Linked DNA regions of Homo sapiens. The protein of the gene in region 1 purifies or fractionates together with the protein of each later gene. This does not show direct contact. Each region holds a gene or a part of one and is shown on either strand. Other genes may lie near its edges.

Region 1 (3,648 bases):
TATGAATTGTGTGCACATGTGGACATTTGTGTATATGAATTGTGTGCGCATGTGGACATTTGTGTATATGAATTGTGTGCGCATGTGGGCATTTGTGTATATGAATTGTGTGTGCATGTGGACATTTGTGTATATGAATTGTGTGTGTGTGTGTGTGTGTGTGTGTGTGTGTGTGTGTGTGTGTATTGGCAGCAACTGCACATTTAGTCAGAGCTTAAAGTGACATTTGGAATTTTGAAGGTTAGCAGAGAGAAATGTGGGTCTTTTTGAATATGTGCTTCCTCCCAGTTCCCCTATTTCCCTCATACCCTTACTGGGAGGCTTAGGATGTTCTACAGGAGAGGGCAGAGCAGCCAGGACCCCGCTGGGAGGAGGCACTGGAAGACTTGCTGCAAAGCTGCCTGGATGCAATAAGCAGCCTTTAATCTCAGATTGTGTGTCTTATTTGGAATGACTGAGAGGTGCTGGTGGAGATCATAGGGGCTAAAATGCCACCTACTACCAGGCCCCCTCTTGGTCCAGCCCTGAGTCTATGACATCAGGAACAGCATTTGATTTTCTTTTTGGAGTGATTCTCTTTAGGAGAATCGCTATGTTGTCCAAGTTGGTCTTGAACTCCTGGCCTCAAGTGATCCCCCCTCCTCTAACCTCCCAAAGCACTGGGATTACAGGTGTGAGCCACCGCACCTAGTCTGGAATAGCTTTTTTTTTTTTTTTTTTTTTTTTTTTTTGAAGGCAATGGTACCACCTTCCCAACCAGACTCCTTGGAAACCCTACTTGATTCCTTCAAGGCCTACATGGGCCCGTGGCCTCTGGGTGGCAGTAGAGATGCAGATTTGTCCTACCTATATTGATGAAGTCTGACCGATACTGACACGTCATCCCAAATCCAAAGTCTCTCCAAAATCCAGTTTCCTTCTTTATGACCTGCAAGAAAAGCACTGTCATTTGAGGGGAAAGTTTAGGGTGGACAAAAATAGAGTGTTCACAAACTCCTGTGAGCCACCGTGGAGTGTGGAGCCCATCCCATCACTGATAAACAGCCTCCACTGGTGCAGGAAACGCAGATGGATTTGAGTCCTTGCAGACAGTCAGGAATACAGTACACACACCAGTCCCAAAACAAGGTCTTGTGATTTTTGGCACCTCTGGCTGGAATGTTTCTAGGGCATAGATATGAAAACACACACACACACACACACACACACACAATCAAAAACAAAAACCGGGAGAGCCAGTCTTTGAGCAGTGCCGTGGAAAAGCCACCTACGTGCCTGGCCCCACACCAGTGCCAGCGAGAATCGGAGGCTTGGGCCCCTTACACAAGCCTGGGCAGCGAGCCAGCAAAGGGCTCAGGAAGTTGAGAAAAGGGATAGAGAACAACTCAGAATTCAGCTGCCCTGGCACGGTCCACTCACAGGACTCCCTTGGGGAATAAAAAGAAATATCTGAGAGACTTCAGTATGTTACCAGCTCTCCAACTCTGTTAACTCTCGCTTGCTGAGGAAAAGGGCACTAGAAGTCCAGCTTCTGAAGAAAGACTCTGTCCATTCATCTTCACGCTATTTTAAAACCAAACTGCTCCCAAAAGCATCTACCGTGGTGCCAGCCTGCAGGGCTGCGGAGAGGCCATCCAGACACTGCCCAGTCTCTTACTCTGCAAGTAAATTTCCAATATATTTGCTGAAACAGCAAGGCTTTTCAAAACTGCATGTGTACATATATATATATATAGAGAGAGAGAGAGAGAGAGAAACACACACACAAACACATATACACAAACACGTATTCAGCTGAGAGAACTCTGGGAACAGTTTTGAGATCTTAGTTATTTTTCATAATTCATTCTTGCAGTTAACATAGGTGCTTAGGTGAAAGGACACCCCCACATCCTGTCCTCTGGGGAAAGGTAGAGAGGGCAGCAGCAGGTTCCTCTTTCCCCACTTGGATTTGTATAGATTTTGTTGGGGACATCTGGTTCTGTTCATCGTTAATTAGAAACGGTACATGAGAGGGGAGAAGCATCAGAGTCTTGGCCCAATGTGACCACTGGCTGGCTTTTTCACTTCAGGCAGCCTCCTTCACTTCTTCATGCATCTATTTTTTTTTCCTTATAAAACAAGGGGGTTAAATTCACTCATCCCTTAGGTGTCTTTCAGCTTTCACATCCAAGTGTTTATCACATCTTCCCCCTTCCTGAAGTTTCACCACAGGCTAATTATATTTGATAAATGGCTTGCAGAAGGGCTGATGAATCTTAAATGTTCTTTAACTCTGTAACATATGAAACTGTCTTACTTTCACTACAATCTACAGGTAGATGTCACTTCCACCATGTCACTTACATTCCACAGGGAATGGGGACCTGCTGCCACCCTCTCCTGCAAGCATCAGGACTGCTCAAGGAAAGTAGAACCAAGAGAGTTTCTGTTGCTTAAAGTTGTCCCCAGCAAGTATTCTCAAGTTCTACTTCAGAGTACGGGACCGTTATACAGTATCTCCCAAATGACAAGTCAATTTCATTAGTATCAACTGGAAAGATTTTGTAAGGCGGCAAAGTCTGGAAAAGTCTCCACGGAGTCATTTTTTAAAATATGGACTTTGTTCCATCCCCGCCTTACCAGGTACATGGTTTCCATTGCAGCGAATAGACTAATATTCCTTCTGCTGGCAACCTAGACAAGTTCCCTAAGCTTATGGGTAAAAATGGAGTCAAAGAGAAGTGCCAGTATCCAATCTTCAAATATTTCGCTGAGGATCACATGGAATTTAAAAAGGAACGCTCCGAACAGGAAAAACAATTGGCCAAGCCTTGGGAAGGAAGACAAGAGGGAGGCATCCAGAGACTCTGGGCTGCACTGATGTAGGGCCTTTCGAGGTTGAACAAGGTGAAGGGGGACCCTCACATGGGAACAGCGTGATGGAGGCAGTCTGGCTTATGAGCTGGGGAGTGAGTTGTGTAAACATTTATTAAAGTCAGTTTGGAAGTTGGCAAGCCACAAAAAGCCACTATCTGAAGAGCTTGTTGAAATTTAGCCCTTTGTGGAAACTCATCTGGTCATGCCCACAGCATGTAATTTCAGGGCAAGACGGAGTTCCCTCAGTCGAGGTTCCACCACCCACAGCTGTGCTGGGTCGCTAACTGGAAGGACGCGCTCAATAGCAGTCTGGCGGGAGTGTGTGCCCTCAAGCACACATCCGATTATATCACGTTCCCATGTGAAGCCCTGCAAGGGTTCCCTAATCGTCAGCCATCTCATTTCTTCTTATCCTTCTGCCCTATATAAGGCCCATTTTCTCCCTCTTGGATTCTCCATGCTCACAGGTCTCCAAGGCCAGATACTTGCAGTCCTTCCTGCCTGGGTCACCCTTTCCCCACACACCACTAAGCTGTGCTCCAATGTCACTATTCAGAGTGGTCGTCCTGACCCTCCTGGCCCATGTTATGCACCTGCCACCCTAATGCCACTTGCTGCACTGGACCCCTGGTTTATTTTCTCTGTAACAATTCTGGCTTCTGAAATGATCCCGTTGATGCATCTGCTTCTCTGTTTGCTGACTGTCTTCAGTCACTAGCCCTGGTGAATGTAAGCTCAGGGCTTGTTCTTGTTCACGACTACATCTCCAGCACCCAGAACATTGTCCAG
Region 2 (3,748 bases), on another chromosome or scaffold:
GAGGCCTTTCTGTTTTAACTTTTCTTACATACATATGCAAACTCAGTTTTACCCTGAAAGATGACATCTAGGAAAAAGTCCATTTTGTAAGCACCTACTGAAAAGAGAACTTTCTGTAGTATTGGCTGACAAAATGCAGTTTATCCCAAACTCTTAAAATTATTACAAACATGGAAGTCTTAACACAGCTCCACTTATTTTAAAAGTTTCTCAAATAGAATATGACCCCCTCACCTTCTTCCAAAAATAGTTAAGTGGAATATTTTAATAATTCATGTCTACAGTTCCCTTTAATAATTTCATTGATTTATTATGATACCAAGGGTATTTCATTTGGAGGTCTAAAATATCCCCTTCTTTGTGACTAAGAGGTAAATGCACATTTGAAGGGGTGATATGCCTTATGTTCTTCGAGCAATGTAATCTGCTGTGTGACATAAATTTTGGCTCTGATCTCACACTGAGGTTTTCACTCCATAGGCACCTGCTTGCAATTTAAATTGAAAGAATCAAAACTTGGTCTTGGATAAAGGAAAGATCCAATTTTCTGTCTGTGTCCTCAACGTAAAACAAAGATTCAATAGTAGTATACAGATTGCCAGAAACCACAGGCTAAAGAGATGTGGCAATTTCCTGAAAGATTTTATGTTTGGGGGGTGGGGGCGGGAGGGGGGCAGGTAGGGTGGAAAGGAGTTGTGGGAGGGGAGAGAGAGACAGAGAGAGAGAGAGAGAGAGAGGAGGGAGAGAGAGAGAGAGAGAGGAGAGAGAGGAGAGAGAGAGAGAGGGAGGGAGGGAGGGAGAGAGAGAGAGAGAGAAGAGAGAGAGGAGAGAGAGAGAGAGGGGGAGGGAGGGAGGGAGGGAGGGAGGGAGGGGGAGAGAGAGAGAGAGAGAGAGAGAGAGAGAGAGAGAGAGAGAGAGAGTCTGCAAGCCCACCATGATGGTCTCTCAAGCCCGCTCAGACATCTGCCCACCATCCACTGCAAGCCTCTTTCAAATGGTCACTTCCTATTATAAGGTTAAACTATAATCAACAAATCCCTTTCTTTCTCCTAACTCAAAACTGTAGTTTCCCATCTCCTTAAAGAAAAGGCACTATCCACCATTTGCTTTCTATTGTTAAAAGGGGCAATGCGTATCTTCTTTTCTTTATGGCACAATTATTAATATTACTCAGAAAGTCCTACCTTTACAAGTTATAATAAGTATCAACATTTATTTGAAATCATACTGTAAAATTTAAAAGGCATCCATATTTATGTTTTATTCTCACAATGACATCTCCAGGTCTTCAAACGGAAGACTACGACACAAATGGCCTGCCTTCACCGTGCTGCAATTTCTTCAACAGGTAACTTGCTTAGCCTGTGCTACGTATTCATACTGCACGTGGATGTCACTGAATGTCCTTTCTCTTCCAATACATATCTGTATCTAAAAGCACACGGTTTGCTTGCAGATTTTCTTCCTTCCCTTCTCCTCCCTATGGGAAGCTGCCCACTCCACCCCGAAAACACTGTCCCCCAAAGCAAGGGGACGCGCTGCACCCTCGGCTGTCACCGCGAGGGCTCGGCGCGCATGCGCGGCGCGAGCGGCCGGGCCCCACAGCCGCAGGTCGTTGGTAAGGCGGGTCCGCGGACCCCAGGTCGAGCCCAGCGGCAGTGCAGGATCGCAAGCGGCCCGGCACCGGCGCCGCAGGTTGTTGGCAAGCCTGGTCCGGGGTTTTAGGTTGAGCCCAAGCGGCAATGCGGGATCGCCACCGGGCCGCGCGGGCTTGGGAGGGTGACGCCCGCGAGGACACTGCGGCGTCCGGGGCGGGCGGGCACACTCACAATTTCAGCATCCACTCGCCCTCCATCACCAGCGTCCAGTTGGAGGCGGTCATGGGCTGGACCCGGCTCTGCTCCGGCGGCAGCGCGGCCTCCTCGGGGCCTGCCGTCGCCGCCACAGCCGCGATCCAGGCGGCCAGGAGCGCCGTTAGCTGCGGGCCGCAGCGCCCACCCGCCATGTTGGGCGCCGAGCGAGGCTTCTCGGCGGGGAGTGTGGGGAAGGGCAGCGGCCGGCCCGCAGCCTCGCTCGCCCGCCGGGTTTTTCAAGGAAGCGGGAGACGCAAGGGCCACCCCGCCTACGCCTAGCGGCGCAGACTGGCGGTGCTCGCAATGCCGCGGAGGACGCCACCTCTTATCGCCGCTTGCCCGTCGAGGCCACGCCCCCTCCCGCCTCCACTTGCCGTTGCCCGGGGTGTCGGTTACCTCAGCAACCACCGCCCTTTCTTCCTGACCGCCAAGCTGACAATAAACAGATGACCCAACGTTGCCTAAGTTAGAACATGCACCGCTGCTGCCCAGGCTCCAATAAGGGCAGGGTTGGCGCGTGTGGGCTTCTCTAAAGGGAAACATGGCCAGTAATTTTAAAATCCATCCCCTCTTCAATGATAGCAAATATAAAAGCAACGGGCTGCAAGGTACACGTATGTTTAATGAAAAATGGAGGGACGTGGTGAGTATCTCCTGCTGAAGAGAGAGGAAAATTTAAGTACTCTGCATGTGTATATTGAAGCATCACTAATTTAGGATATTGATGAAACTAGCCTATGCAATTGCATTTTTTTTACAAAAAATGTTAATTTCATAGAAACTCTTAAAAACATGGGTACTAGCCGATAAAATGAGTCAATTAAGACTATTGCCACCTGCAGTAAAATGGACCTCACATTTCTCTTGACTACAGTTTTGTCAGATCTAAAATGAGGGTAGCCTTAAGTGATTTCCAAATTTCTTTCCAGGTCACATTAGATGAATCTGTACCTTGGGACCACCACACCGTTAATATATAAGACTGGATTACAATTAAAGGATGAGGAAGCTTTCTCAAAGGGTGCTTTGTATGTGTTTACTAGTTGTGCAAACCATGAACCTCGGTAATGTGGTTAATAGACCATGAAAAGGATGTGGTTTCTGCCCTCGGCTTAAAACAAAGACAGCAATAAGACTAAAAGTACTTCAGGGCACATGAGAGCAAATTTCAATCAATACTTATAGGAGAGGGAAGTTAATTTTGCCTGAAGAGAAGATCTGGCCTGCATTATGCATTAATTAGTATTAGCTAAAAACTATGTGGACCTAGCCCTTATCATTAAAATAAAACACTCAAGGGTTTACAAACTATTGAAATTTAAGAAAATGTCTTTGCAATGAATGCTACTAAGACTCACTGTTATTAAGTACATACATATCAATTCCATAAACTCAATGGAAAACATTTTACTGTGCTTGTAAAAAGAAGTGACTCATAAACAGGAATTCTGTCATTTTATCACTTTCATGATAGAATGATGTGTAGAATTTGTTTTACAATGCTCCAGAAATAAAATGTAGGGAATGGAAAGAAGATAGGTGAAAGAAAAGTGGTGCAACATCAGTCAGTGTTGAAGCTAAGTTCATTTTGCTACTTTACCTACTCATGCATATGTTGGAAAATTTACAAAATGAAAAGCTAAAAGGAGAGAGAGCATCTTCAGCATGAAAGACAGCCATTACCAAAGCATTTCCTATCTTTAACAAAAACTGAAGTCTTAGCCTTCAGACTAAGGATGGTAGGAAGAAAGTAGCAAGGAAGTATGGGACTGACCTTGCCGTAAGGAGTCACAGACCAGGGTAAGGGACCTGTTGCTGTCAGACCATGATTGGCATCTTAGCCCTGACACTTCCTAGCCATGTGATTTGGGGCTAAAACTAGTCCACACCAAAGT
Region 3 (3,748 bases), on another chromosome or scaffold:
TGTGAGTGTGTGTGTATGTATGTGCCCATGTGTGTGCTCACTGGGTAAGTGTGTGAGTTGTGTAGGTGTGAGAGCATGTAAATATGTGTGAACCATTGTGTAACTGTGTGGGCCACCGAGCTTGTGTGGGTGAGGGTGAGTGAGCACATATGACTGTGAGGATGTGTCTGCGTGAGATTGTGAGTGTGTGCATGAGTGTGTGAGTGTGTGTTTGTGTAAGTAGGTGAGTGAGCATGAGTTCATGCATATGAGCAGGTGTGAGTATGTGTGCGTGCATGTGAGTGGGTGTGAGTAAGCATGTGTGAGCGCACACATGACCAGGTGTATGAGTGTGTGTGTGCGTGCGTGCGCGAACCTCAGCTTTCCACGGCACCAGCTGCTTCCTGTGGAAGGGAGGGGCAGTCTGTGGGGGTTGTGACGGTTCCCTGGTCTCAGGGGCAGCAGAAGCTTTCTGTCCTTTTGGTCCCTAGCACAGTGGTGCCTCCTCAAAGAGGCCTTCCCTGAGCCGCCAGCAGCCTCTTTCATGGCTCCCCATCAATGGGGTTCCATAGCTCCGACCCCAGCGGCGTGAGCACATTTGCCATCCGACGGCCACTCCCTGCTTTGTGGTCCCTGCTGTGTCCCCAGTATTCAGCTCTGGTCTGGCACACAGCATGTCCAGGGCCCTCTTTGTCCAAGGCAAGAAAGAATTTGAGGCTGCGTCCAGGCCTCTTGCACCTGCCTCAGGCTCCCGCCCAGAGCCTCTACCTGTGCCCCAGCGAGCATTCTCTGCTCGCTGCTCAGAATGCTCGCAAAGGCCGGCCCTGGGGTCAGAGGCCTCCACAGCCCCTGGAGCTGGGAAGCCTGGGGGTCCACCGGCAGGCACGGGGGTCTCTTTCCAGGTAGGTGGGAACGCGTGCTTGTGGGTGTGGACAGGTGTCTGCACTGGGGTTTGTCTGTGTGTCTGTCTCCACTCACACCGGGGATGTATGTGCCCCTGCGTGTCTGTCTCTGGTGCCCACCTGTGTGCAGTCTCTGTGTTCTGCCTAACGGTGGTGTTCCCGTGATAACCGACGGTGAGGATCTCCGGTAAGCGCCGCTTCCTCTGGGAAGACGCATTTGGACGCCCGTACTCTCAACAGGTAATGGAGTTTGCAGGAGACCACCAATGCCTTGGAGTCCACTGAGGCAAGACCCAAGGACCCCACGCTACACATCAGCCACCCGGCTCTGTGCCCCATTTTACTGTTGGGGAGACGCACCTAGAGGGCAGGGTCTGGAGAGGTAGTGGCAGCCTCAGTCGCAAGCTCAGGGTGCTCTCTCTGCACTCACAGGTGCCATGGTCCCCCAGTTTCCATCCCCACCCACCCCCACTCGGCCAGTGCCCTTTGGGGGCAATGCCAGGCCAGGAAGGGCGGGCACCCTCGCGCGTCCTGGGGACAGAAGGGCGCGCACCGGGCGCGTAGCTCCTGAGCCCCGAGGCCCCTGCGCCGCGCACCGCCCCCCGCGCCCGCTCCCTCCTCCCTCCCTCCTCCTCACCCAGCTCCCTCCCCTCCCCCCTCCCTCCCTCCGCGCTCAGAGCTGCGGTTGGAGCCGAGCGCGCCGCGTCGCCCGCCGCCGGTGCAGAGCGTGGGGAGCACTCGGCCGCAGCCCTCGCCCGCCGCAGAGGGTCGCGTCCCGCGCCGCCGGCCAGGCCGCCCCGTGCCCAGGCCTTTCCATCCTTGGAGCGGATCGTTGCCCGCCTGACGCCCGCCCGCAGCGACAGCGCCCGCCGGAGCCGAGGCCGCGGCGGCGGCCGTGCCCATGCCCGGGTAAGTGGTGCTCTGGGCGCGCGGGCGCCGCCGGGGTGGGCGCGGGCGCGGCGCGGGCACAAGGCGCGGGTGGGGATGGGAGGATGACCCGGCAGGTGGTGCGGCGGCAGGTAGGGGGACACGGGTCCCCGCCCGAGGCACCTGAGCCCCGCGCCGGGCCTGCGTGTCCTTGCGGCACTGCGGCCGCGCGTCACCCCGGGGCCCCAGGCCGGCGGGCAGCGCCCCGCACCCTGCACCCTGCGCCCCGCATCGCGCGCGCACGCGCATCCGTGTCTGAGGAACAAGGCCCTTGGGGGCTGCGGGCCGGGGCTCAGGGTGGGCGCAGCCGGGGGCGCGGGATCTGGGCCGGGAGCCCGCCAGTGCGCACGCACCTTCCCGGAGCCTCGGGCACCCCCTCCCCCCCGCGCCCTCACACTGTATCATCCTTCCCCTCTCGCCTTCCCGCACCGTTCCCCGCACGCCCACGCGGCTGCCCAGCAGACCCCACCGCGGTCATGGGCAGTGCCCACGAGAAGCCGCCCGGGGCCGCACTTAGGTAACTTCTCCATCCCTCCAGGAACGGCTGTCTCCCCCTCCTCGCCTGTGTGACCTTGGCCAGCCAGCTTTTCCTGTGGCCGCCTGCGTTTTCTCACGGGTGAAAGCTCTGGCTTTAAGATTCTGGAATTTGGAATGGCAGGTGCGGCATCTCCCAGAGCCTGAGACGATGGGCTTCTCTCTCTGTGACCTGGTGTCCTTCCTTCTGCTGGCCCTTCTGGGGGTTGGTGGCTCAGCCAGCCGGCTGAGGAGGGGTGGGAGGCAGGGCAGGGGCATGGCGCCGGGGCAGGTCAGGACTGGAGGGAGTCTTGGAGAGCCCGCGGTGAGGGCTCCATGAGGGTTTAGGAGAGACTGTGGAAATGCTCCTTCGCTCACTCAAGGGGCAGGGAAGGGACCAGAATTCCTCAACGAGATGCTTGCCATTTCCTGGCGAGGTCATATAACTTTCAAAGATGAAGCCCAGGGCCTCCGACCTCAAAGGAGTCCCTGCCTGCTAAAGGATCAAGTCCAGCCTGTCCCCAACTGGCCCCCATCCTGAATTCCACTGGCACCCTAAACGTCAGCCGACTTCCCCTGGCTGACTTGGGCACCAGTCTGGCAGGCACCCCCTGCACCTCCTCCCCTCCTTTGCCCACTAGGATCTGTGCCCTCACCCCCTGCCATTGCCCCTCACTAGTCAGTGACCATCTTAAGGCAAGGACTGGCTCTTCATTTGCACAGGCCTGGCACAGAGTGGGCACCTGGTTTCTGCATGGCATATTCATGACCTTGACCTCACTGAATCTGCAGACTCACTGAACAGGAGAGGCAAGGCCTGGATTTTTGTCCCCATTTTTCAGATGGGATCATTGAGGCCCCCAAGAGGAGAAGGGATTCAGCCCTGAATTGAGGCCCCTTCCTTCATGAGCAGATGGCTAGGGACATTCCTATGAACCTGGTGGGGCAGGGAGGCGGGGAGAGGTTATCGTAATAATCAAAGACCAGCCCCACTTCCTGAGCTCCATCTGAGTCTCACCTCAACCACACGAGTGAATGGCTGTTTTCATCCCCAACCCCCACCCCCCGCCGCCACTTTTCACAGATGAGGAAACCGAAGCCATGTGGCTCATTAAAGGGGCACTGGGATGCCGAGGAGAGGGCTGGGGATGCCTGGGCCCCTGTGGGACACAGCTGAGACCCAGCAGAGGGTCCCAGGGTGAGGTCAGCCCCTCAAGTCTGCGCCATCGGAACGGGCTGGGAACTTGTGGTCCCCGGCCATTGATTGTCACTGCTGCAGGCCCCGAGGCGGGGGACAGCCAAGGACACAGCCAGTCTCCATCAGCTCCACCTGGGCCGTGCCCTGCACGGCCAGGTGGTTTGAGTGCAGGAGTAGGCATGCTCTCACACAGCAGGGGGTAACGGGCAGATGGAAGTGGGGCGGGCGT

Evidence for each region.
Region 2: the proteins of CSGALNACT1 (region 1) and TMX4 purify together in Homo sapiens (affinity purification with mass spectrometry; 3 studies listed by BioGRID and IntAct, with this or other methods). This does not show direct contact.
Region 3: the proteins of CSGALNACT1 (region 1) and ATP2B3 purify together in Homo sapiens (affinity purification with mass spectrometry; 3 studies listed by BioGRID and IntAct, with this or other methods). This does not show direct contact.

Annotation. Positions count from the first base shown.
Region 1 is NC_000008.11:19,407,767-19,411,414, forward strand, and holds part of CSGALNACT1 (chondroitin sulfate N-acetylgalactosaminyltransferase 1), read right to left. Parts: intron 1,659-3,648; exon of another isoform or gene 1,472-1,658; intron 929-1,471; coding exon 847-928; exon of another isoform or gene 842-846; intron 1-841. UniProt on the Homo sapiens protein: Transfers 1,4-N-acetylgalactosamine (GalNAc) from UDP-GalNAc to the non-reducing end of glucuronic acid (GlcUA). Required for addition of the first GalNAc to the core tetrasaccharide linker and for elongation of chondroitin chains.
Region 2 is NC_000020.11:8,017,609-8,021,356, forward strand, and holds the start of TMX4 (thioredoxin-related transmembrane protein 4 precursor), read right to left. Parts: upstream 2,154-3,748; 5' UTR 2,006-2,153; coding exon 1,830-2,005; intron 1-1,829.
Region 3 is NC_000023.11:153,516,086-153,519,833, forward strand, and holds the start of ATP2B3 (plasma membrane calcium-transporting ATPase 3), read left to right. Parts: upstream 1-1,556; 5' UTR 1,557-1,790; intron 1,791-2,346; 5' UTR 2,347-2,466; intron 2,467-3,748. UniProt on the Homo sapiens protein: ATP-driven Ca(2+) ion pump involved in the maintenance of basal intracellular Ca(2+) levels at the presynaptic terminals. Uses ATP as an energy source to transport cytosolic Ca(2+) ions across the plasma membrane to the extracellular compartment.